Regions from separate parts of the Homo sapiens genome. Here region 1 is linked to region 2. The links come from fine-mapping of genetic effects on gene expression. A gene starts in region 2. The other region holds a variant in brackets. All regions are shown on one strand. Distances are between the middles of the regions. Region 1 overlaps ANXA5 (annexin A5). Region 2 holds the start of ANXA5 (annexin A5).

Region 1 (12,102 bases), 33 kb after region 2:
GCAGACTAAGAAATTGTCATCTGGTTTAGAAAAGAAGAATATCTTTGATGTAATAGAAGATGTGATGATGGTTGTTTTCAAATTAAATAATTTAGTTTTATTTTAATTAAATATTCAGAATAATCTGGAAAAATTGGAGAACTGAATCTGTGCAGTTGATTGCAGTATTATGTACTCCAAAGCTAGGGAGAATCTAGTTTGTGAGTCTCCTGTGGTCCTTTTGTTCATATGGGTCTGCAGTGAGCCTCTGTCTGCTGTTTGTTCCAAGTATTTGGCCTTGAGCTCACACTTTTGTGCTCTCTGTCTTCAGGAGACTAAGCTAAAGATCTGCATGAACCAACTCTAAAAGTAGCCTTTCACTTGAGTACACAGTTAATGTACTTTTACCAGAAAACTTTTAGACAGGTCCTTCATAATTAGAATACGCATACAAATTAAGACATTTTCAGTTACTGGTGGCTGTTTTTCTTAAGACTTAGAAAAGGGAGAATTAAGAAATCTCCACATGCAAGGATTATTTTTGTATATTAAGGAATTTTCATGATAGATTTTCTGAAGCTAAGCAGACTGAGGTCTGAGCAGCCCCAACCTACATTCAACATGTACATGTTCAGAGAAGAGATCCTTTCTGATATTGATTTATCTGTTTTTGTACTGAAATGGATAAATCTCATGCTGCTCTGTGTGAATCATTGATATTAAAGAATATGTAGAGAGTATAGGAAGATCACCCAAGAGTTTAAAAAAATTAGGTAGTAATCTTGTATTATTTGCTTTAATGTCTTGGAATGAAAACTTCCAAGGGATTTGTGTAATTTATTGGTGATGAAGAATGTTGTGGTATTATGATAACAATCCAGGCTGCCCAAACTGCAGTATCCAAAAAGTCTTCACAGAACCAAGGCGCATAGAAAAACCTGTGCCCTTATTCTCCATGCCTTTCTATGCAGACCTCAGAACTCCAAGGAAAACCTAAGCCAGTGTCTAAGAAAATACTTGGTGAGTGAGGAAATCAGATTAGCTTACAGCTCTTTAGCCTCTGGTACTTTTGTGTTTTTATAGAAGTAGAGCTATAAGCAGGAAGCAGCACTTGATTTTTAATTACTTAATCCTTTACATATCAAAATAGCATTTGACCATTGTATTGTTTATTTTCTTAGTGAAATCTATTCGAAGTATACCTGCCTACCTTGCAGAGACCCTCTATTATGCTATGAAGGTAAGTGGAGACCATGAACCTTCTATCTAATACATTTCTCTTTCTAATTATTATTCTTCACTTTTGTTTATGTTTTAGATGATAGACCTTGGGAATTTTTCCCTTATAACATTCAACCCAGTTCTACTAAATTGTTATACCTTATTGATTCACCCGCACCCGGGAGCATTTGATCCTATGTTTGAAGTTTTTAAGCATTTTGCTTCTCTCTTTTTTTTTTTTTTTAAAGGGAGCTGGGACAGATGATCATACCCTCATCAGAGTCATGGTTTCCAGGAGTGAGATTGATCTGTTTAACATCAGGAAGGAGTTTAGGAAGAATTTTGCCACCTCTCTTTATTCCATGATTAAGGTAGTAGAACCTTTCTTTAAATTACGTTTGGGAATCCAAAGCAGACTGGTATGTTGCATGAAAGACAAGGATAAGAGAACCTGATTCTTGTGTTAAGTTTAAAATTTTAGTGACACGATTAGAGCAATGAGTTAAAAAGCTTAGCATAATGTTTCCTGAAGTAGAGATGATGGCTCCCAAGTGAAAGCATGGGTATTGATGTGGCTGAGGCTCTTGGTGAACTCAGAAGCATTATTTAGTAGTGGTAACAGATGACTCAACAAACCAAACCCCTTGCCTATGATAATAATGTGTTCTTTCTGTCTTTTATCAATTCCAGCTGTCTTTATTAGTCCTTCTTTTATTTCATATCAGCTTTTCCTTTCTTTATCGTCTGTTATCACCTTATCTCTGATGCTGGTTTCTAATTCAGGAAAGAGCCAACCAGGTCATATTGGGAGTAAAGAGCCCCTAGGTATTAGTATCATTTTTGTTCTTTTTAAAACAAGGTGCTCTGTGGCCTATAATTACATTTAGCTTAAAGTCTTTTGACTTTTTTTTTTTTTTTCCAGTAAAGGTTAATGTGGACCATGTGCAAAGCAAGATTTCAATTGAGCAGAAGCTTTTAGTTTAGCATGTTTGTGGTTTGGCTGGCCCAAAGGACACTAGAGAGTTTACCCATGCACTTTTAGCTTGAAACATTAATTTATCATGCATGTCTGCATGTGAGACAAGCAGATGCAAAGCATGTTCTGCCCTTCTGTCTCGGAGGGAGAGCCATGACAGCCCTGCAGCCCCAGCACTGCCCGTGTTAGCTGATATATACCAAGTGATAGAAACTATTCTGTCTAGAAGGCTTGATTTGACTATAGTTGTTAAAGTTGCCTGATTCTTTGTGTTACCAGAGGGAATACTGAGTGTCTGAGGTTACATTGGTAGGAAACTCCCTGCATAACATTCCTGATGTGAAAGTCACAGAGATTACCCACTTGGGAGAAGAGTCTTATGAATAAAATTTGTTGCCAGTTATTTAGTTTTAAAATTTTCTATGGCTTCTGTGAGTCATGGAGGTTAATGGAATACATTTGGTTTCAGGGAGATACATCTGGGGACTATAAGAAAGCTCTTCTGCTGCTCTGTGGAGAAGATGACTAACGTGTCACGGGGAAGAGCTCCCTGCTGTGTGCCTGCACCACCCCACTGCCTTCCTTCAGCACCTTTAGCTGCATTTGTATGCCAGTGCTTAACACATTGCCTTATTCATACTAGCATGCTCATGACCAACACATACACGTCATAGAAGAAAATAGTGGTGCTTCTTTCTGATCTCTAGTGGAGATCTCTTTGACTGCTGTAGTACTAAAGTGTACTTAATGTTACTAAGTTTAATGCCTGGCCATTTTCCATTTATATATATTTTTTAAGAGGCTAGAGTGCTTTTAGCCTTTTTTAAAAACTCCATTTATATTACATTTGTAACCATGATACTTTAATCAGAAGCTTAGCCTTGAAATTGTGAACTCTTGGAAATGTTATTAGTGAAGTTCGCAACTAAACTAAACCTGTAAAATTATGATGATTGTATTCAAAAGATTAATGAAAAATAAACATTTCTGTCCCCCTGAATTATGTGTACATGTGTGTTTAGATTTATTATTAAATTTATTTAACAATGTTCTCTCTTTTTAAGCTAATAATTGACAGTGGTGTTAGTTGAGAACTGAATTTACAGTTGGTCTTTTGGGCAGTAAGAAATGCAAACCATAGACTGAATTTCCTTCATAGTACATGATTTTTCCTAAATATAGGAAAGATCGAAGGGGTCTCTGGTTTATTTGCACCATGTTTATTTAGGCATCTATTAAAGCAATGCTTGTGGTGCTACTTGCTTAGTAGAAAAGCTAATTATAAAACTTAATGCAAAAATTCAGAGTACTACCTTTCTCTTTCCTCTTTCCTATTGTGAACTTGCCTCCCATTTACTGTCTGTCACTTTCTTTGAGATAAATAAAAAAGACAATAATTTTTTCTAGAAAGAAGCAGTTTATCGATCTCTTCTAATATTTGCCTTTCAGTTTTCTGTTTTCAAACTGCCATTTCAGTTGGTGTCATTTTTCTTTTTGTACTTATGCCCTTCTGGTTGCATTTTTTTTTTTAAAGCCAAGTAATTGCCATTAATAAGCTTTTTTAAATAAAATGAACTAATCTTCCTTTGAAAACTTTAAAATAGTGATAATATTCTTTTCACCACCGTTGATGCTCATCAGAATAACCAGGGGAATCTTAAAAACTGTATGTGTACACATGATATTGGATTTTTGTTTTTTTGAGAGGCCTCATAGGCAATTTTAATGCAGAGGCAAGTTGAGAATCAGTTGGTTATACTTTTCACATAGAAGATGATATGTTTCAAAGAGCTCTGTTCTGTTATTGAAAATAGGCCACTGGCTTTAAATATAAGCCCTGGATTATTTATTAGTAACACTTTAAGAGAAATCCACCTGTGAGCTTTAACATTTGCTATATTTTCTGTAGGTCTGGATCTGAAAATTTATTAATAAAAGAATTAAAAAAATAAAAATCCACAAAAAACATTTGCTATATTTATTTACTTAGTGACCTTCTTCCCAGCTCTCTGTGAGTTTATTGGGAGACAAATTTTTGTGGAACTAGATAAGCTGATTGTAAACATCATGCAAAAAAGGAAGGATTGTTAGTAAAACTTGAGAGTAGTGAGGGAGCACTATTCTTCTATTCTTTACACAGATTAGACTACATATCCTGAATAGCTGAAACAGTATAATACTGTGGCATGAATAGACAGACAAAACAGCAAGTTCAGATATGGAAACAAATCATTTGGAAATTTAGTATATGTTAAAGGTAGGTCTTAATTTGCTGGGTAAAGATAGCATTTTTTTCTAACAAATGGTGTGAAGACAGTTGGGGAGCCATCTAGGAAAATATAAGGCTTTTTCTATACCTCATGTATCAGGTAACTCTCAAAATGAAACATTTAAACTTAAAAATAAAATCATAAACATATGAGAAAGAAGCATGGAGGGATTTCATCATACCTGCACCTTCTAGATTCTCTGGGAAGCAGATGCTGAGATGGAGTTAGGGATGCAACAGGTTTATTGAATGGAACAGGTAGAAGGCAGGATTGGGCAAGGGGTGTCATCAGATTGCACTGCAGACCTGACCAAATCTTTGCCAGTATCATGTGGAACTCTGAGGCAAAGAGTTCCTGCAAAGAGCCCTTTGTGAGACAGAAGTGCCTGGGCCCTGTGCCACCACCTTCCTTACTCAATTATTGGCTAAGTGTCTTCTGGAGAAGAGCTTGGCTTGGCTGGAAAGCTGAGGCAAAACCTGAAGGAGATTAAGAGTTGGAAGGCTGTCAGCAACCCACATTTTCACAGCTTGGAACTGAGTATTTTCTTGAAAGGGGATCTAAGTGGTGCAGTTCCATGTCTGCCATAATGATCTTGAAGTGTGAGGCCTTTCTATCACCCAAAATCCAGAAGCCATAGGAGAAAAGATGATTATTTTTGATTTCCTAAAAATCAAAAACTACATGGAAGGCAGGCCAGGCACAGTGGCTCATGCCTGTAATTCCAGCACTTTGGGAGGCCAAGGTGGGTGGATTGCTTGAGCACAGGAGTTTGAGACCAGCATGGACAACATGGCAAAACCCCATTTTTATTTTTTAAAAAACCAAACAAAAAATTAGCTGGATGTGGTGGCACACGTCTCTGGTCTCAGCTATTTGGGAGACTGAGGTGAGAGAATTGTTTGAGCACAGGAGCACAAGGCTGCAGAGAGCCTGAAGGAGGGAAGGAGGAAAGGAAGGAAGGAAGGGAGGGAGGGAGGAAGGGAGGAAGGGAAGACGGGAGGGAGGGAGGAAAGGAAGGAAGGGAGGGAGGAAGGGAGGAAGGGAAGACGGGAGGGAGGGAGGGAGGGAGGGAAAATCACCACCAAGACAATTTAAATGACAAACGGGAAAACATTTACAGTTCATACAACAAAGATCTAATCTCCTTTGTACATGCTGACACACCTTGTTTTATTGTACTTTGCAAACAATTAAAAAAAA[A/T]TTTTTTTAAACAAATCATAAGTTTGTGGCAACCCTGCATTGAGTCAGTGTATCAGCACCATTTTTCCAATAGCATGTGCTCACTCTTTATCTGTTTGTCACATTTTGGTAATCCTTGCAATATTTTAAGTTTTCATTATTATGTATCTTATGGTGATCTGTGATCAGTGATCTTCAATGTTACTGTCATAATTAAGGTGCTATGAACCATGCCCATTTAAGACAGTGGGCTTAATTGATAAATATGTGAGTTCTGACTGCTCCACCGACTGGCTGTTCCCTCATCTCTCTCTCTCTTTCTCTCTCTCTCTCTGATCCTTTCTATTCCCTGAGACAAAACAATATTGAAATTAGGCCAATTAATAACCCTGCAATGGCCTCTGAGTGTTCAAATGAAAGGAAGAGACTCACACATCTCTTATTTTAAATGAAAAGTTCAAAGTGATTCAGCTTAGTGAGTAAGGCAGGTCAAAAGCCAAGGCAGGCTGAAAGCTAGGCTACTGGTGCCAAACAGCCAAATTGAGAATAAATGTAAATTTTAATTTTCTTTCTTGAAGAAAATTAAAAGTGCTACTCCATTGAACACATGAATGATTAAGACAGTGAAATAGCCGTATTGCTGATATAGAGAAAGTTTGAGTAGTCTGGTTAGAAGATCAAACCAGCCACAACATTCCCTTAAGTCAAAGCCCAATCCAGAGCAAGATCCTAATTTTCAATTCCATGAAGGCTGAGAGGTGAGGAAGCTGCAGAAGAAAAGTAAGTGAGCAGTTTTGGTTCATGCGGCTTAAGGAAAGAAGCCGTCTCTGTAATAGAAAAGTGCAAATTGAAACAGCAAGTGCTGATGCAGAAGTTGCAGCTAGTTCTCCAGATGACCTAGCTAAGATAATTGATAAAGGAGGCTACACTAAACCACAGATTTTTAGTGTAAACAAACAGCCTTCTATTAGAAGATGCAATTTATAGCTAGAGAGGATACATCAATGCCTGGCTAAAGCTTCAAAGAACAGGCTGACTCTTTAGGGGCCAATGCAGCTGGTGATGTTAAGCTGAAGCCAGTGCTCATTTACCATTCCCTGGATCCTAGGGCCCTTAAAAATCATGCTAAATCTACTCTGCCTGCATTCTATAAATGGTACAACAATGGATGATAGCACATCTGTTTATAGCATGGTTTGCTGTTATTTTAAGCCCACTTTTGAGACCTGCTCAGAAAAAAAATCCTTTTCAAAATATTACTGTACATTGACAATACACCTCATCACTTAAGAGCTCTGATGGAGATTTAGGAGGAGCTGAATGTTGTTTTCATGCCTGCTAACACAACATATATTCTGCACTCCATAGATCAAGGAGTAATTTCAACCTTTAAGTCTTATTAAAAAATGTACTTTATAAGGGCATAGCTGCCATAGATAGTGATTCTTTTGATGGATCTGGGCAAAGTAAATAGAAAACATTCTGGAAAAGATTCACCATTTTAGATGCCATTGATATGGTTTGGCTTTGTGTTCCCACCCAAATCTCATGTTGAATTATGATTCTGAGTGCTGAGTGGTGTGAAGTAACTGGATCACTGGGGTGGTTTCTAATGGTTTAGTATCATCCCCTAGTGTTGTCTCATAATAGAGTTCTCACAAGATCTGGTTGTTTGCAAGTGTGTAGCACCTCTCCCGTCACTCTCTCTTCCTCCTGCTCCACCATGGTAAGATGTACTTGCTTCTCCTTTGCCTTCTGCCATGATTGTAAGTTTCCTGAGGCCTCCCAGCCATGCTTCATGTACAGCCTGTAGAACTGTGGAATCAATTCAATTTCTTTTCATAAATTACCCAGTCTTAGGCATTTCTTTATAGCAGTGTGGGAACAGATTAATACAGCCATTAAGAATATTCATGATTCATGGGCAGAGGTAAAAATATCAGCATTACCAGGAGTTTGGAAGGAATTCATTCTAAACCTCATGGATGACTTTCAGGGGCCTAGGACTTCAGTGGACGAAGTAATTGCAGACATGGTGGAAATGGCAACAGAAGTAGAAGTAGAAGTGAAGCCTGAAGATGTGACTGAATTGCTGCAATGTCATGATAAAACTTGAATGGACAAAGAGTTGCTCTTATAGATGAGCAAAGAAATTAGTTTCTTAAGATGGAAACTATTCCTGGTGAAGATGCTGTGAACATTGTTGAAACAACAACAAAGGATTTAGAATGTTCCATAAACTTAGTTGATAAAGCAGCCATAGGGTTTGAGAAGATTGACTCCAATTTTGAAAGAAGCTCTACTACTAGACACTGTGGCTTATGCTTAGCTACTCAGGAGGCTGAGGCAGGAGGACTGCTTGAGGCCAGGAGTTCAAGACCAGCCCAGGCAACATAGGGAGATCCTGTCTCTCAAAAAAGAAATGAAAAAATAATGAGCTTGGTGTGGTGGTGCATGCCTGTAGTTCCAGCTGCATGGGAGGCTGAGGCCTAAGAGTTTGAGGCTGCAGTAAGCTATGATCATGCTGCTGCCCTCCAGCCTGGGTGACAGAGCGAGAGCTTGTCTCTTAGAAAAAAAAGTCTGTTTCAGAGAAATCATTTGTTAAAAAAAGAGTCAATCAATGCGGCAAACTTCATTATTGTCTTATTCTAAGAAATTGCTGCAGTATCCCAAGCAGCAGCCATTAACGTCGAGGCAAGATCCTCCACTAGCAAAAAGACTATGGCTCGCTGAAGGCTCAGATGTTTGTTAGCATTTTTTAGCAATAAAGTAGTTTTAAATTAAGGTATATACATTTTTTAAAGGGAAAAAAACCCCAAACCAGTACTATAGTAAGAAAAAAAAAGGGCAAAAGAGATGAATAGGCAGTTCATAGAATAAGAAATATGGCCCTTAAGCATGAAAAGATGCTTGATTTAACTCATAATAAGGGAAGCGCAAATTCAGATTACACTGAGATTCCTTTTTCCACCTATCAGATTGTCAAAAATCCAAAAGTTGGAGAACATCGTTGTTGTGACGGCAAGCTACAGTGAACTAGGAATTCTCACAGATGGTCAGTAGGAATAAAAAGTGGTATAACCCCTCTGGAGGGTAGTTTGGCAATATTTACCCAATCTATAAATGTATTTACCTTCTGACCCAGCAATAGCGCTCTGTGCATTTTTCTACCCATCACCTGCATTTATGAAATGCTGTGCGTGTAAGTTTATTATTGTGACATTGTCAATTCTCCTTAAATTCAACTATACATTTAATGTGATCTCATTAAAATACCCAGAGAAAATTTTTGGAAGTTTATGTGAAAAAACAGACAAGTAAGAGTGCCAGGAGAATTCTTTCTAAAGAATTGGACTGTGATCAGGTAGCCTGATGCCTCCAGCTTTGTTCTTTTTGCTTAGGATTGTCTTGGCTATGTGGGCTCTTTTTTGGTTCCACATGAACTTTAAAGTAGTTTTTTCCAATTTTGTGAAGAAAGTCAGTGGTAGCTTGATAGGGATAGCATTGAGTCCATAAATTACCTTGGACAGTATGGCCATTTTCACGATATTGATTCTTCCTATCCATGAGCATGGAATGTTATTCCATTTGTTTGTGATCTCTTTTATTTCCTTGAGCACTGGTTTGTAGTTCTCCTTGAAGAGGTCCTTCACATCCCTTGTTAGTTGGATCAGTTGGATTCCTAGGCATTTTATTCTCTTTGTAGCAATTGTGAATGGGAGTTCACTCATGATTTGGCTCTCTGTCTGTTATTGGTGTATAAGAATGCTTGTGATTTTTGCACCTTGATTTTTTATCCTGAGACTTTGCTTAAGTTGCTTATCAGCTTAAGGAGATTTGGGGCTGATACAATGGGGTTTTCTAAATATACAATCATGTCACCTGCAAACAGAGACAAGTTGACTTCCTCTTTTCCTAATTGAATACCCTTTATTTCTTTCTCTTGCCTGATTGCCCTGGCCAGAACTTCCAACACTATGTTGAACAGGAGTGGTGAGAGAGGGCATCCTGGTCTTGTGCCAGTTTTCAAAGGGAAGGCTTCCAGTTTTGCCCATTCAGTATGATATTGGCTATGGGTTTGTCATAAATAGCTCTTATTATTTTGAGATACGTTCCATCAATACTACAAGGCTACAGTAACCAAAACAGCATGGTATTGGTACCAAAACAGAGATATAGACCAATAGACCAATGGAACAGAACAGAGGCCTCAGAAATAACACCACACATCTACAATCATCTGATCTTTGACAAGCCTGACAAGAACAAGCAATGGGGAAGGATTCTTTATTTAATATTTAATAAATGGTGCTGGGAAAACTGGCTAGCCATATGTAGAAAGCTGAAACTGTATCCCTTCCTTACACCTTATGCAAAAATTAACTCAAGATGGATTAAAGACTTAAATGTAAGACCTAAAACCATAAAAACCCTAGAAGAAAACCTAGGCAATACCATTCAGGACATAGGCATGGGCAAAGACTTCATGACTAAAACAGCAAAAGCAATGGCAACAAAAGCCAAAATAGACAAATGGGATCTAATTAAACTAAAGAGCTTCTGCACAGCAAAAGAAACTATCATCAGAGTGAACAGGCAGCCTATGGAATGGGAGAAAATTTTTGCAATCTACCCATCTGACAAAGGGCTAATATCCAGAATCTAGAAAGAACTTAAACAAATATAGAAGAAAAAAACAACCCCATCAAAAAGCGAGCAAAGGATATGAACAAACACTTCTCAGAAGAAGACATTTATGCAGCCAACAGACCTATGAAAAAAAGCTCATCATCACTGGTCATCAGAGAAATGCAAATCAAAACCACAATGAGATACCATCTGACGCAGGAAACGACACATGCTGGAGAGGATGTGGAGAAATAGGAATGCTTTTACACTGTTGGTGGGAGTGTAAATTAGTTCAACCATTGTGGAAGACAGTGTGGCGTTTCCTCAAGGATCTAGAACTAGAAATACCATTTGACCCAGCCATCCCATTACTGGGTATATACCCAAAGTATTATAAATCATGCTACTATAAAGACACATGCACACGTATGTTTATTGTGGCACTATTCACAATAGCAAAGTCTTAGAACCAACCCAAATGTTCACCAATGATAGACTGGATTAAGAAAACGTGGCACACATACACCATGGAATACTATGCAGCCATAGAAAAGGACGAGTTCATGTCCTTTGCAGGGACATGGATGAAGCTGGAAACCATCATTCTCAGCAAACTATCACAAGGACAGAAAACCAAACACCACATGTTCTTACTCATAGGTGGGAGTTGAACGATGAGAACACATGGACACAGGGCAGAGAACATCACACACCAGGGCCTGTCGTGGGGTGGGGAAGCGGGGAGGGATAGCATTAGGAGAAATACCTAATGTAAATGACGAGTTGACGGATGCAGCAAACCAACATGGCACATGTATACCCATGTAACAAACCTGCACGTTGTGCACATGTACCCTAGAACTTAAAGTATAATTAAATAAAAAATTAAAAAAAAAGAATTGGACTGTGATAAGGGGCTAGAATGACCAGATACTAAAACAAAAATTACAACTGTTGTAACATTTTTTAGAGGCCCCCCAAATGTTTTAAAAACGTAAATCCATTATTGCTACCATTATCTTCTCATACGCAAATGATTCAAAGTACATTCATTATATTTCCCACAGACAAATATGTCTTCCTGATTTTTCTATTTTTGGTAGTGGCTCTAAAATGAAGTGTAGTACTCATACAGTAGGCAGACAGACCAATTAAATAGAATAAAAATGACAGAAATAGGCCTCAATACAGATAGAAACGTAGTATAAAGCATCATTTTAAGTCAAAAGAGAAAATATAACTATTAAATAAATAGTGCCAGGACCCACTCTTTTGGATAGACATCTCAAAAAACTAAAACTGGATCCATAACTCCCAGCTCAGGATGATCAATGATTTAAATATAAAAAGAAGAAATCATACAAATATTAAAATTAACTCTATTATCTGACTTTGGAACAAGTGTTAATATGTTATAAAATCTAGTAGCCATAAATGACAAAAAGACTGATTAAATTCAACTAATAAACCTTAAACTTTTAGAATTGAAAGTTAAAGATTTATGAATGGTCAAAGGCACAATAGGCAAGTTTAAAAGAAAAACAATCACCTACAGAAAAATATTTGCAACTCATAGGTGTAGTTTCCCTAATACATATTGAGGTCCTTCATATTGAAAGGAAAGGATCAATAACTCATGAGAAATGAAGGCCAATGACATGAAAAGGTCATTTACAGAGCAGGCAATACAAGTTATCAGTCAACAATTGGAAAGATGTTTAATCTCGTTCATAATAAAAATAATGCAAGATAAAACTATGGTGAGGTACAATGTTTCAATGAGCAGATTAGCCAAGACAAAAATAATTGTTGATAAAGGCCTTCTCAATCAGCTGCTCTTATAACTGG
Region 2 (12,102 bases):
GTCACCTAGGCTGAAGTGCAGTGGCAATCACAGCTCACTGCAGCCTTGAACGCTTGGGCTCAGGAGATCTTCCTGCCTCAGCCTCCGAGATAGCTAGGGCTACAGGCATCTACCACCACGCCTGCCTGATTTTTAAAATTTTTATTTTATTTTTTATGAACAGGGTCTCCCTATGTTGCCCAGGCTGGCCTCGACTTCTTGGGCTCAAGTGACCCTCCTAGCCTCAGCCTCCCGAGTTTCTGGGATTACAGGCACAAGCCACTGATCCTGGCTAATTTTAGATTTTGAGTGGGATGGATGGGGACTGAATCATCAGCATGGAAAATGAAGGTGGGATTCAGTGGTGAGAGCTTCTGGAAGAAAAAAAAGGGGTGAGAAATTTAAACTCATCTTCTTGTTATTTTTACGCATTAAACAAGTCAACACATTTAATCTTTACCAACATTCCAAATAAGGAAAAATCAAATCATTGTCCAAGGTCATACACTAGTTAAAATCATAAAATAAAACTTAACCTAACCATGGATGAGTTCTTTTTGGAATTCAGAATGCTGTCTAGAATACATTTATTCCCCTGGCAAAGTTCTCCCTTATAAAATTGCCTTTTAACTCTTTTTCATATCTCATTTCATAGCCTTCTTAATATAAGTAGTTTGCAGTTAATAGCAACCTTTGTTTAAGAAAACCAATACCCCTATACTATAATGCATTCAATGCATTCATACATACATTCACTCATCCATTCAAAACATTTCATGAGCAGTTACTTAGTGCTCATGAGTTTTTTTGTCTTGTTTTGTTTTGTTTTTGAGATGGAGTCTTGCTCTATCTCCCAGGCTGGAGTGCAGTGGTGGCACAATCTCGGCTCACTACAACCTCCGCCTCCTAGATTCAAGTGATTCTCCTGCCTCAGCCCCCGAGTAGCTGGGATTACAGGCGTGCACCACCACACCTGGCTAATCTTTGTATTTTTAGTAGAGACGGGGTTTTATCATGTTGGCCAGGCTGGTCTCGAACTCCTGACCTCAGATGATCTGCCTGCCTCAGCCTCCCAAAGTGCTGGGATTACAGGTGTGAGCCACCCTGCCCGGCCTGGTGCTCATGAAATGTTTTGAATGGATGAGTTAATGTATTAATATGTGCACTGTGCTAGGTGTTGGGGATTCAGCAATAAACAAGAGATGCAGGATGCTTGTCCTTTTATATGCATGCTTAGTATTTTTATTGCTGCTGCTTCTCTCTTTCTCTTTTATTTTTTTTTTTTTGAGACAGGGTCTCACTCTATCTCCCATGCTTGAATGCAGTGGCGTGAACTCAGCTCACTGTAGCCTTGACCTCCTGGGTTCAAATGATCCTCCTACCTCAGCCTCCCAAGTAGCTAGCTGGGACTTCAGGTGTGTGCCACTACACCCCCCTCATTTTTGTATTTTTTTGTAGGGATGGGGTTTTGCCATGTTGCCCAGGATGGTCTCGAATTGCTGGGCTCAAGTGATCCACCTGCCTCGGCCTCCTAAAGTGCTGGGATTACAGATGTGAGCCACCGTGCCCAGCCTTTACTGCTTCTTTTACTAATAGTGTTGAGAATCTCAATCACACCTAAAAATTCTGCATGAAAGATTCCTATGAGATATTCTAATTATTTACCCAAGATCTACATTCCAGTGTCCTACTAGGAAAGTTGATTTACATTTTACTGGATAAATACAAATGTTTTGCATAAAAATAATGGAAAGACATCTAAAACTGAAAATCTCCTGAGGAGTCTCTGCTTTTAATTTCTTGGTGAGCACATGGATCTCAATAAGGGGATAGTTAGCACTGTTAGCTCAGGATGAGTTTCTGAAAGATACCTGGACCTGTTGCTATGTCTGAATGTGTCCCTCTCAAATGGATATGTTGAAATCTTCACCTCTAAGGTGATGGCATTAGGGGTAGGGCCTTTGGGAGATGATTAGGTCATGGGAACTCCACTTCATGATTAAGATTAGTGCCTGCTATGGTTTGAACATGCCCTCCAAAGTCCATGTGTTAGAAACTTAATCCTCAATGCAACAGTGTTGAGAGGTGGGCCTTTAAGAGGTGAGTAGGTCATGAACGGGAGTGAGTTAGTTATCTCGGGAGTCAGTTCCTGATAAAAAGGATGAATTTGGTCACCTTTCTCTTGGTCTCAAGTGCTTGGTTTCCCTTCTACCTTCTGCCTTCCTCCGCAGGATGATATAGCATGAAGGCCCTCACCAGACGCTGGTGCCATGCTCTTGGACTTCCCAGTCTCCAGAACTGTGAGCCAAATAAACTTCTGTTCTTTATAAATTACCCAGTGTGTGGTATTTTTATTGCAACAGAAAAGGGACTAAGAGTGCCTTTAAAAAAGAGACCCCAGAGAGCTAGCTAGTCTCTTCTGCCATGTGAGGTTACAGTAAAGATGGCTGTCTATGAGGAAGCAAGCCCTCACCTGACCCCAAATCTGTGGAACCTTGTTCTTGCACTTTCCAGGCTTCAGACTGTGATAAACACATTTCTGTTGTTTATAAGCTACTCACTTCATGCAATTTTGTTATGGCAGCCTGAACACACTGAGAGACCTATTTTCTCCAGAGACACTACAACCACTTTAAACCTAAAGAGCAAGAATGGGGAGCCACTAGAATAAAGCTACATTCCAGTATCACTGCTGGGATGTAGAGATGATGGTGGAAAAAGACTTGACAGAGCCCACTGAGGAAGGCAGCCCCACCTCTAATCTCACCCTGGGACTTTAAGACATGAATGAGTTGAGGGCAGATAGGTGACTTGAATTAAATTCCAGGTGACGGTTTTACAGTTGTTGGCACCAGCAGATGGGGATCAGAGGGCCCACGTGTGGAGAGAAGGGTAGAGGGTGGGGGTCTAGGCTAGTTGTATGTTGATAGGGGCCATCGATGGTAGACTCTGGATGAGGCAGAATAGGCGGGAAGAAGGGGGAATGGCACCAGGAAGCATCAGGTTGGCCCCCAAGAGTTGGACCTGCCGTCTCTGAGAGACTGGCTGGCAATAGGTCCTGCTGCAGTGGAGCAGTGGGTCCAGAGGAGGTTATTTTTGCTTTTAATATGAAGGTGGGTCCTTAATCATCAGAACAGGAACTGAGAATGATGGTTAGTGTTTCTGAAAGAAAAAAGAGCCATGGGGGAATGGAATCAACCCTTTTTCACAATTTGTTAGGCAGTTTCACAAATTAACTTATTTGAAACTAGCCTCCACTCTAGATAAGGAAGCCAAGGATCAGAGAAATCACATAATTTGTCCAAGTCACATCCCTGGTATGCAGGCAGAGTAGGGATTTGAACTCAACTGTCTCTGTCTTCAGAGAGTGTGCTTTTTCCAGATCTTGCCTGGAAGACATGATGTTCCTCCTTTCCCTTTGTATCTAGCCCCTACTTTACTCCTCAGCCACTCTCTCGTTTCTTCTGCTTCATGCAATTCATTCTCCTGCCATCTTTTCTTCTTCTTTAACTTGCCATAATTTGCAATAGATATATTTATTAAACAAAATCAATTTTTAAAGTAGACTGGTTGAAAATGTTATAATTTTCTAAAAAACAAGATTCCAATTCCTCTAAAACTAAAGAAGAGTTGTTTTGTACTTATTTATAAAAAGCCTGTAACTCATTTTCTTTTCTTTATGTGTCATTATAATCAAGGGAAACAGTAGGGCCATGAATATATGATCAAAATATTAGAGTTGAGAGATGTAGAAACTGAAACACAAAGAAGCTCAGCGACTTATTTAGAATAAATTGGCTAGTTCCTGAATGATCCAAATAATTGAGAGAAATAGGGAAAATCCTGAGTTAACAAATAAATACAGTTTCAAAAGTGTGTTTGTAAATTAGTTCTCTGGCATTTGGTATATTTCTCTAATAAAAAGAAAATTGATGTGACCTGAGTGTCTCATAGAAAACAGCTGAAACTCATTATTTATATCTAAGAATAGTATAAAAAACTCCCCACAATTATTATGTAGTACTTATAATGAACACAACACAAAGACAATACACTGAGAAAGAAGGACTTTAATTTTTAAATGTGTAAGAAGAGAAAATTTAATTAGAAAGATGAAAGACTTAACTGGCGAATCCGGCAGAGATTCTAAAGATGACATTTGGACACTGATAAAGGCCATTGGGGGATGAATGACAGACACTTGTTTTTAAGAGTGTGAAAGCTGTCCTTATCAAAATGGAGTCAATTGTGTTAAAAAACGAGACAAATCCCTGACAAATGGCTGGGGAAGGCCATGAAGGGAGGGTTCTAATACATAAATGCCTGATAACAAGAACTATTGAAAAATACTGCAAAAACCACAACTTTGGACAAAGGCCATTGCAACCACACACACACACACACACACACACACACACACACACAGAGAGAGAGAGAGAGAGAGAGAGAGAGAGAGAGAAAATGAGAACTTCTGCGGAGACATCTGCCCAGCAACTGCCTGTACAACATTAGACTGGTGCCACTCTAGTTATTGATTACTGTAGCCAAGGATAATTATCTCAAAAACAATGATGTAATCTTCCTTCTTCCTTGAAAAACCTTTGCCTTCCTTTACCTCCCTGAATACGCAAAATAGTTTAATATGGCACACATATTCCCATTGCAATGCCCATTCCCAAATAAACATCATTTTCTTTTAGAAAGTCTCCCTCTCTGTTTGTTATTAGGCTGACAAGAGGTAGTGAAAGAGATTTCCTGAGTGCCTATCATTTATATCACTCAGTAGTTAAGAACATCAGTTGTTCAAAATCCATCAATTAAATACACAATTCAAAGCAGAATCTTTATGTGGCAATCTCTCTTTATTCTAAATAAGTCGCTGAGCTTCTTTGTGTTTTAGTTTCTACATCTCTCAACTCTAATATTGTACCTTCCACTCCAGCCATTTTAGACAGTTCAAATCACACAGACACAAAGAGATACTTTCCTTCTCTTGGTTTTGCAGTTCACTTAACCAGACCACCCTTTCTCCCCTTCATAGTTTGATAAAATATCCTCTCTCAAAAGCCTAATCCAAATGCTATGTCAACCATCTGACAAAATATTAGCTCCTTCCTCTGAAACTAATTGCATTTTGATTGCATTCTAGGCATTTCTTTCCTGATTTATAGTCTCTCATTGTAGTGTTCATATACATGCTTTATCTATAATATTAAGGTGCAAACTCTTAGGTATGGCCTTTCCACAGGTGCTCAGTGTATAGTTGTCAAATACAATTAAATTGTATCAATTTAGGTTTCTGTTCAAGGCTTCTCAGAAATGGCTTCATATCACCTTTGCAAAATAAGTGTTCCCTTCATTTCCATTCCCTAGCCTTTATTTTCTTTATACCACGCATCACACAGGACATATTAGATACTTGTTTATTGTTTGTTTCCTCCACCAGAATGTATGACCTATGAGGGCAAGGCCTTTGTTTCACTTGCCGTGTTTACCCCAGCACCTAGATCTGTGCCTGGTCCAGAGTAGGAGTTGAATAAACTGATATTACTGGAAGTGAAAGAAATGCTACCTGGAGTATTTCAAGACTCTGAGTCCAATAACTCATCGATTTTGTCAGTATTTAGCTGCAGGACATAGAGCAAGTCACTAACCCATGATGAGTCTCATGTCCCTGTAAAATCAATGATTGTTAAATACAGGATCTCTGAGGTCCTGTTTAACTCCATTAATGTGAGAGTAGAAAGTGAGAGAAGCAAACTGAGTTCAAGTGGATATGGGTGAGAAAAAAGAATGCTCTAGGCAAGACTACAGGTCCTGCTTTTGGTGCAGGGCAGAGAGAAAGTAGAAAAGCTGGAGCAACGGAGACAGATGCTCAGAAAAGGGCTGCCTTCAGATATATTAATACCTGTAAAGAAAACCCGGGGGAGGTGCTGACTTGGGGAGAGCCTGAGGCTGAGTAGACAGCTGGGCTGGTGGAGAGGAGGCTCCCAGAGGAAAGGCAACCCGCCAGTGGGGTGGGGGTGATGGGGTTGGCAAGCTCCACAAATTTTGCAATTTTGCCTCCTTTCCCAGAGAACAACCACTCTGTTGTGACTTTGTCAGGGCTGGAATAGGCATGTGGTTCACACGTGAAAGCGAATGAGAAGTTCTATACAAAGAACCACATTTGCTGTCCATTTAATTTATTCTTCCTCATTCTCAAAGAAGACTAGATCCTCATCTCTTACCCTTAACCTCCACGTTGAGAAGCACTTTGCCCTTCCCATTCTAGCATATGTCTAGAACACTGCATCTAGTGTCGCAAACTTGTCCTCTTGCCCCCTCTGCCCTGGCACCTTCCCTCCCCACACCAGTAAGTCTGAGAAGGTCCCTGTGTCTTCTACTTTTCCTTTTCCAGCATATGGAGACAAAAGTGATTATATCCCGGATGCTAATCCGCCATGTTGACCTTTAATAACCCCAGTCCCATGAATACCTCCTGATTCCTAGGATTTTTTTTTTAAACTGTCCTTAGCATAAGAACATGTCAACCTTGATGCTATTGCCCACATTGTAGGCTATGAAGCATACGGCATTCTCACCTGTTCCGGAGGGCTGCCTTTAATTGTCTTGCACAGAGCAGTATACTCTTTCCTTACGGTATATAAGGCCAGGGTCTGGGGAGTAACAGTGCAGAAATTTATCTGCTTGCCGCCGCCCAAGGCCACGCTTCTGTCTACCACATCCTCCAATAGCACCCCTATTACCTACAGACTGGATTTGTCTGTCTCGTTCTTTGGTTTCTTGACTCCTTCGCGTTTGGGGGCTGCTTTGCATATAAAGCCCTTTCACAGAACACAGCACCATGCTAGTACAATACGCTGTAGATTCTCCCTCCCTCCCCCTCTCTCTCATATACTCATATATTTTATGTTGAACCAATATGAGGCATTGCTCAAATTTAAGTCATATTAAAGTTCTAGGCTAGTTTTGAAAACAGAAACTGATTGGAAGCAGAGGTTTTCAAATAGCCCACATACGCTACTAGAAGGCTGTACATTTAAGAGAGGGCCATCTAGGAAGCAATAATAGGCATTAAAACAACAACAAAACAACAAAACAAAACAGAAACAAAAACAACTTGGGAAACGGCCCTCCTTTCACGTTTTTTCTATCCCATCGACAAAGGCGCGCTGTCCTTAGCTGCGATGATTTTGTCTCGCCTCCAAAAAGACGCCCACGCACTATGTTGAGCACCCAAGTGAGGCTACGGTTCCTGCGGTCACAGAGGGCAGGGAGGCTCAAGCACCTCCAAAACCCCGAGCCCTGGACAGCTCCCCAGGCCCTTCCCGCGGCGCGAGGACAAGAGGTCTCCGGGGCCCTCGGGGGAGCGGCGCCTCCTCCTGGTTCCAGCAGCTCTGCGGCCGCTCCCCACCCAGGCCCGCGAGACCAGCGGGACAGTCCGCGCCGCGGGAGACCAACTGGGACGAGCCGCGACCCACGCAGGCGCGCTGAGGCCGGGGCAGGGGCGGGCCCGGCTGGCGCGGCCGGCCTGCGGTTGGGGCCCTGGCGGGGGTGGGACGGGCCAAGCCGGGCAGGGCCGGGGTGGGGCCGCTGGCGTTTCCGTTGCTTGGATCAGTCTAGGTGCAGCTGCCGGATCCTTCAGCGTCTGCATCTCGGCGTCGCCCCGCGTACCGTCGCCCGGCTCTCCGCCGCTCTCCCGGGGTTTCGGGGCACTTGGGTCCCACAGTCTGGGTGAGTGGTCGCAGCCCGGGGAGGGGGCTCCTTCTGGAGAGGAGAGCGTGGTCGCGGGGCACTGGATTCGCGCGGACGCTCGGCCGAGAGCTGTCCCGGTAGCTGCGAGAGGGCGGGTCGGCCCCGTGGCGGGGCCCTCCGGGCTGTCTGAGCGCCGCCGGGTCCCCGCGGACCTGCGCTTGGGGAGGGCACGAGTTGCAAATGGCGCGCTAAGCCCGAGGTTTCTTCTCTTTTGCAGTCCTGCTTCACCTTCCCCTGACCTGAGTAGTCGCCATGGCACAGGTAAGGCCGTGCGCCCCCCACTGCGCTGGATTTACCCACAACTTTGTATGCTGCGACGAGGGACTTTTAGGATTTGTCTGAGAGCCAAAAAGTTTAGGAGGAAAGGGAACCTGCTTTGGGGACATCGCTTCCACTTTTCTTGTTCCCCCTTTGCTTCCCTGCCCCCGTTTCTGTGTCCCGGTTCTTCCCGCTGAGCGCCCTCCGGAACCAGCACCGACGCCGCCAAGCTGCCTTCGCGCGCAACAGCTGGTGACGTGGCCGGATTTGTGTGCGCTCCCTTTTCATGAGTGAATGTGTAAAAGTGGGCCTTCCCCAAAATCCAGAGAGTAGCTCAAATTAGAACCGGAGCAAGAACAGCTCATCGTGGTCATGTGAGGCGAACGCATTCCCCCCCCACCCCGCCCCCCGACTTCCTTTATTTTTTTTCCGCAAAGTTTTCTGTATTTTAATACTGTGATTGAGCATTGGCTTTTTCCAGTTGCTCAGCCCAGTTTTACTAAAACTGTAGGACGTAGGCTCTGATTTTTTTTTTAATCCAAAAGATTAAACACAAGCGCTGTTTTTCTTAAGCAATGAACTCGTGGAACGAGTTCTCAATTGAATTTGCCTTGGGACTGTTTCAGAAATTGATAATCTACTACAGGCTTTCTTTACTGTTTTTTTTTTTTCCTTTTTTTTTGAGACGGAGTCTCACTCTGTCGCCCAGGCTGGAGTCCAGTGACGTAGTGATCTCGCTCACTACAACCTCTGCCTCCCGGGTTCAAGCAATTCTCGTGTCTCAGCTTTCCAAGTAGCTGGGATTACAGGCGCCCCACCATGCCCAGCTAATTTTGTATTTTTAGTAGAGGCGGGGTTTCACCATGTTGGCCAGGCTGGTCTCAAACTCCTTGCCTCAAGTGATCCTCCCGCCTCGGCCTCAGGACTGTAATCCCACTGCGCCTGGTTTCTTTACTGTTATTAATGTTTATCAAAAATGTAGGAAAGAGAAGATAGTTTAAGGTCTTTAAATATTGACCATGTTATACAGTCTTTTGTGAATAAGATACCAGGGCTTAAAAACTCTAAAACTGATTTCACAGATCTTGTCAATCTAACCGGCTTGTCAGAGTCCAGATAGTTTTTTTTAAACAAGTGTTTTAACTGCTAAAACAATGCTGTCTCTTATTTATAGTTCACTTTTTATCAGATTGACTTATCAAAATTGAAAAAGGTTTCTTGGTCCTTTCCAAGTGAAAATGGGAGGATTAAGATTAGTTGATTACTTTATGAAACTTACACAGTGATCCCATTCTTACCTCCTCTTTTGCACTTAAATGTTACAGTAAACCAATTCTCATATTACTTCAAGTGGAAAGTTTGGTTTAAGTTCTTCTCCATAGAAAGGATACTTTTATGTGGAATTAACTTTCCTGAGTAATATTTTTCCTATCTTGATATGCTGGTGTGGTGATGTACATGAAGATTTAACAAGCATCGAATAATAATTCCCTCTATCTTTGCTCATTTAGCAGTTTCTTGAATCTCTTGTAAGTTCCCCAGTGATGTCTGAGGGTCCATCAATTCCTTTTCATTATGTAGACTGTTTACCCAAATAGTATAAGCGAACATATTTTCCAGTTGTGGACATTAATTTTAATAATTTCAAAGAATGATTAGTATCATAAAGGCCATGTGTATAGAAAACCTAGGAGAATGGTGGTTTGCATATAAAATTATGTACCTGAGCCCTATGACAATATAACACCAAGACTGTTTTCTATCAAAACTACAGTTTTTACTAATCATAAAAGTTACAAGTAATGTTTTAAAAAAGATACAGAGTGTTAAATTTTGTTCTAGTTTTGTTACTATTTTTGGAAATCATGAAAGTAAAACATTTTGTTAAAATATTTAGTATTGGCCAGGCATGGTGGCTCATGCCTGTAATCCTAGCACTTTGGGAGGCTGAGGCACGTGGATCACGAGGTCAGGAGTTCGAGACCAGCCTAACCAACATGGTGAGACCTCGTCTCTTCTAAAAATACAAAAATTAGCTGGGCATGGTGGTGCACAACTGTAATCCCAGCTACTCGGGAGGCTGAGGCAGGAGAATCACTTGAACCCGGGAGGCGGAGGTTGCAGTGAGCTGAGATCGCGCTGCTGCACTCCAGCCTGGGCAACAGTGAGACTACGTCTCAAAAAAAAAGTTTAGTATTAAAGTTGGGTGCGGCGTCTGAGCAGTAAGAATGTCATGAAGGCAAAACTAGGCTACGTAATTGTTCATTAGAAGCTTCATGAACATCAGAATTTTTTTGTTTATTTTTTATTTATTTTTTATTATATATATATTTTTATTATACTTTAAGTTCTAGGGTATGTGTGCACAACATGCAGGTTTGTTACATATGTATACATGGTGCCATGTTGGTGTGCTGCACCCATTAACTCAATATTTACATTAGCTGTATCTCCTAATGCTATCCCTCCCCCCTCCCCCCCGCCCACAATAGGCCCCGGTGTGGGTGTGTGATGTTCCCCTTTCTGTGTCCAAGTGTTCTCATGAACATCAGAATTATCTCTATGGTATATGTTTAAGTTACAAGGTTTGATCAGAAATATTTTCGGTTGGTTTAAAATTATTATAATAATTTAAAAAAGCCCTGTGCCGAGCAAGCAGGATAAATGTAAATAAATAAATTTGAGATGAAACTCCTTCCAGAGGAGCTGACTGGATATTGATTGCATCTTTTCATGCCATTCATTTTTTAAAGTCAAGTCTCTCTGGAGCTAATGTTCACTTTTGGGATCTTAGATCAGGGTTACCTGTTTACCCGTGGCCTGTGCTGCTCCTGGTGATTTCTCTTGGTTCCTTATCTGTTTAACTCTTAAGTTCATTTTGGCTGCTGAGAAAGAACTAGATCAAAAACTACTTGGCTGCTTTGCAAGCCACTGAGCAATTCATTGGCATTCAGCAAACCCTGATTTCCTTATCTAATATCCAGTTCTCCTTGGAAGGCCTACATAGGTGATCAGGCTAGTTACAGGCAGGCAGTCCGGCTTTCTTCTTTTAATGACTTAGAAGTTCAAAATGGTAAAAATATAACAGTGCTTTTACAGCATAGATTCATTCCTGAAATACATTTTATTCATATAACCTTCATACTATTCTAAAATTTCACAAATGCATCTGTTTTTTAAAAATTAGGGCTCCTAAGACCTTTGCTTTAAGTGCTTCTTAGACGCAGTCTTTCAGTTTAGTTAGTTTACATAATATGTAAACATATCATCAATTGATTAATTGCAAGGAATTATACTCCTGGCTTCATTTCTTTGGACACTAGTTTTTTGGGTTTTTTTTTTTCTCCCCCGAGATGGAGTCTCGCTTTGTTGTCCAGGCTGGAGTGCCGTGGCGTGATCTCAGCTCACTGCAACCTCTGCTTCCTGGGTTCAACTGATTCTCTTCCCTCAGCCTCCGGAGTAGCTGGGATTAGAGGCATGTGCCACCACGCCTGGCTAATTTTTGTATTTTTAGTAGAGACGGAGTTTCGCCATGTTGGCCAGGCTAGTCTCGAACTCCTAACCTCAAGTGATCCGTGTGCCTCGGCCTCCCAAAGTGCTGGGATTACAGGCATGAGCCACTGCGCCTGGTGGGACACTAGTTCTTAACTGTTCTCTTTTTCATCCATGCATGCATTCATGAATGCATGAGGCTTTTGCATTTTCACTATGTGCCAAGTATTGTTAAACATGAGCGCAATGGGAAATGGATCTAAGATTTATTGATATAATAGATGCATTGCCAAGTCTTTTGTGTGCATTATTTAGTCCTCATAACACAGTTTTGGAAATAGGTATTACTATTTTTGTTTCACAGAAGGGGAAATTGAGGTTACTTAGCTGGCATTCTTTGTATGGGACAAAGGAGGGAAGCCATCATACAGAGAGGTAACAACAGCAAATAAATACTTAGGGGTGTAAAAGAGTTTGGCATGATGGAGTGAAACTGCAGTGAGGTGGGGAAATCAAGCCTTGTCTTGGAAGGGATAGAACTTTTCAAGTGTTATTCATGGAATGCCCAATGGAACAATTTGGTAAAAGAGCATACTCTCCTCTGACCTTCAATGT

What was found.
Region 1: its variant is fine-mapped to the expression of ANXA5 in iPS cells (PhLiPS, PIP 0.95).

The regions. Positions count from the first base shown.
Region 1 is chr4:121,659,071-121,671,172 of GRCh38, reverse strand. ANXA5 (annexin A5) reads left to right here. Exons shown (of 13, transcript NM_001154.4): 11 at 1,161-1,219; 12 at 1,449-1,571; 13 at 2,646-3,227. The coding sequence ends at 2,705. Among named protein-coding and RNA genes, the nearest start is that of ANXA5, 32 kb to the left of the region's middle. The variant A/T (reference allele first, on the strand shown) is at 5,647.
Region 2 is chr4:121,692,477-121,704,578 of GRCh38, reverse strand. It overlaps ANXA5 (annexin A5), which reads left to right and starts at 7,599. Exons shown (of 13, transcript NM_001154.4): 1 at 7,599-7,716; 2 at 7,955-7,998. The coding sequence starts at 7,990. RefSeq lists a silencer at 7,231-7,650.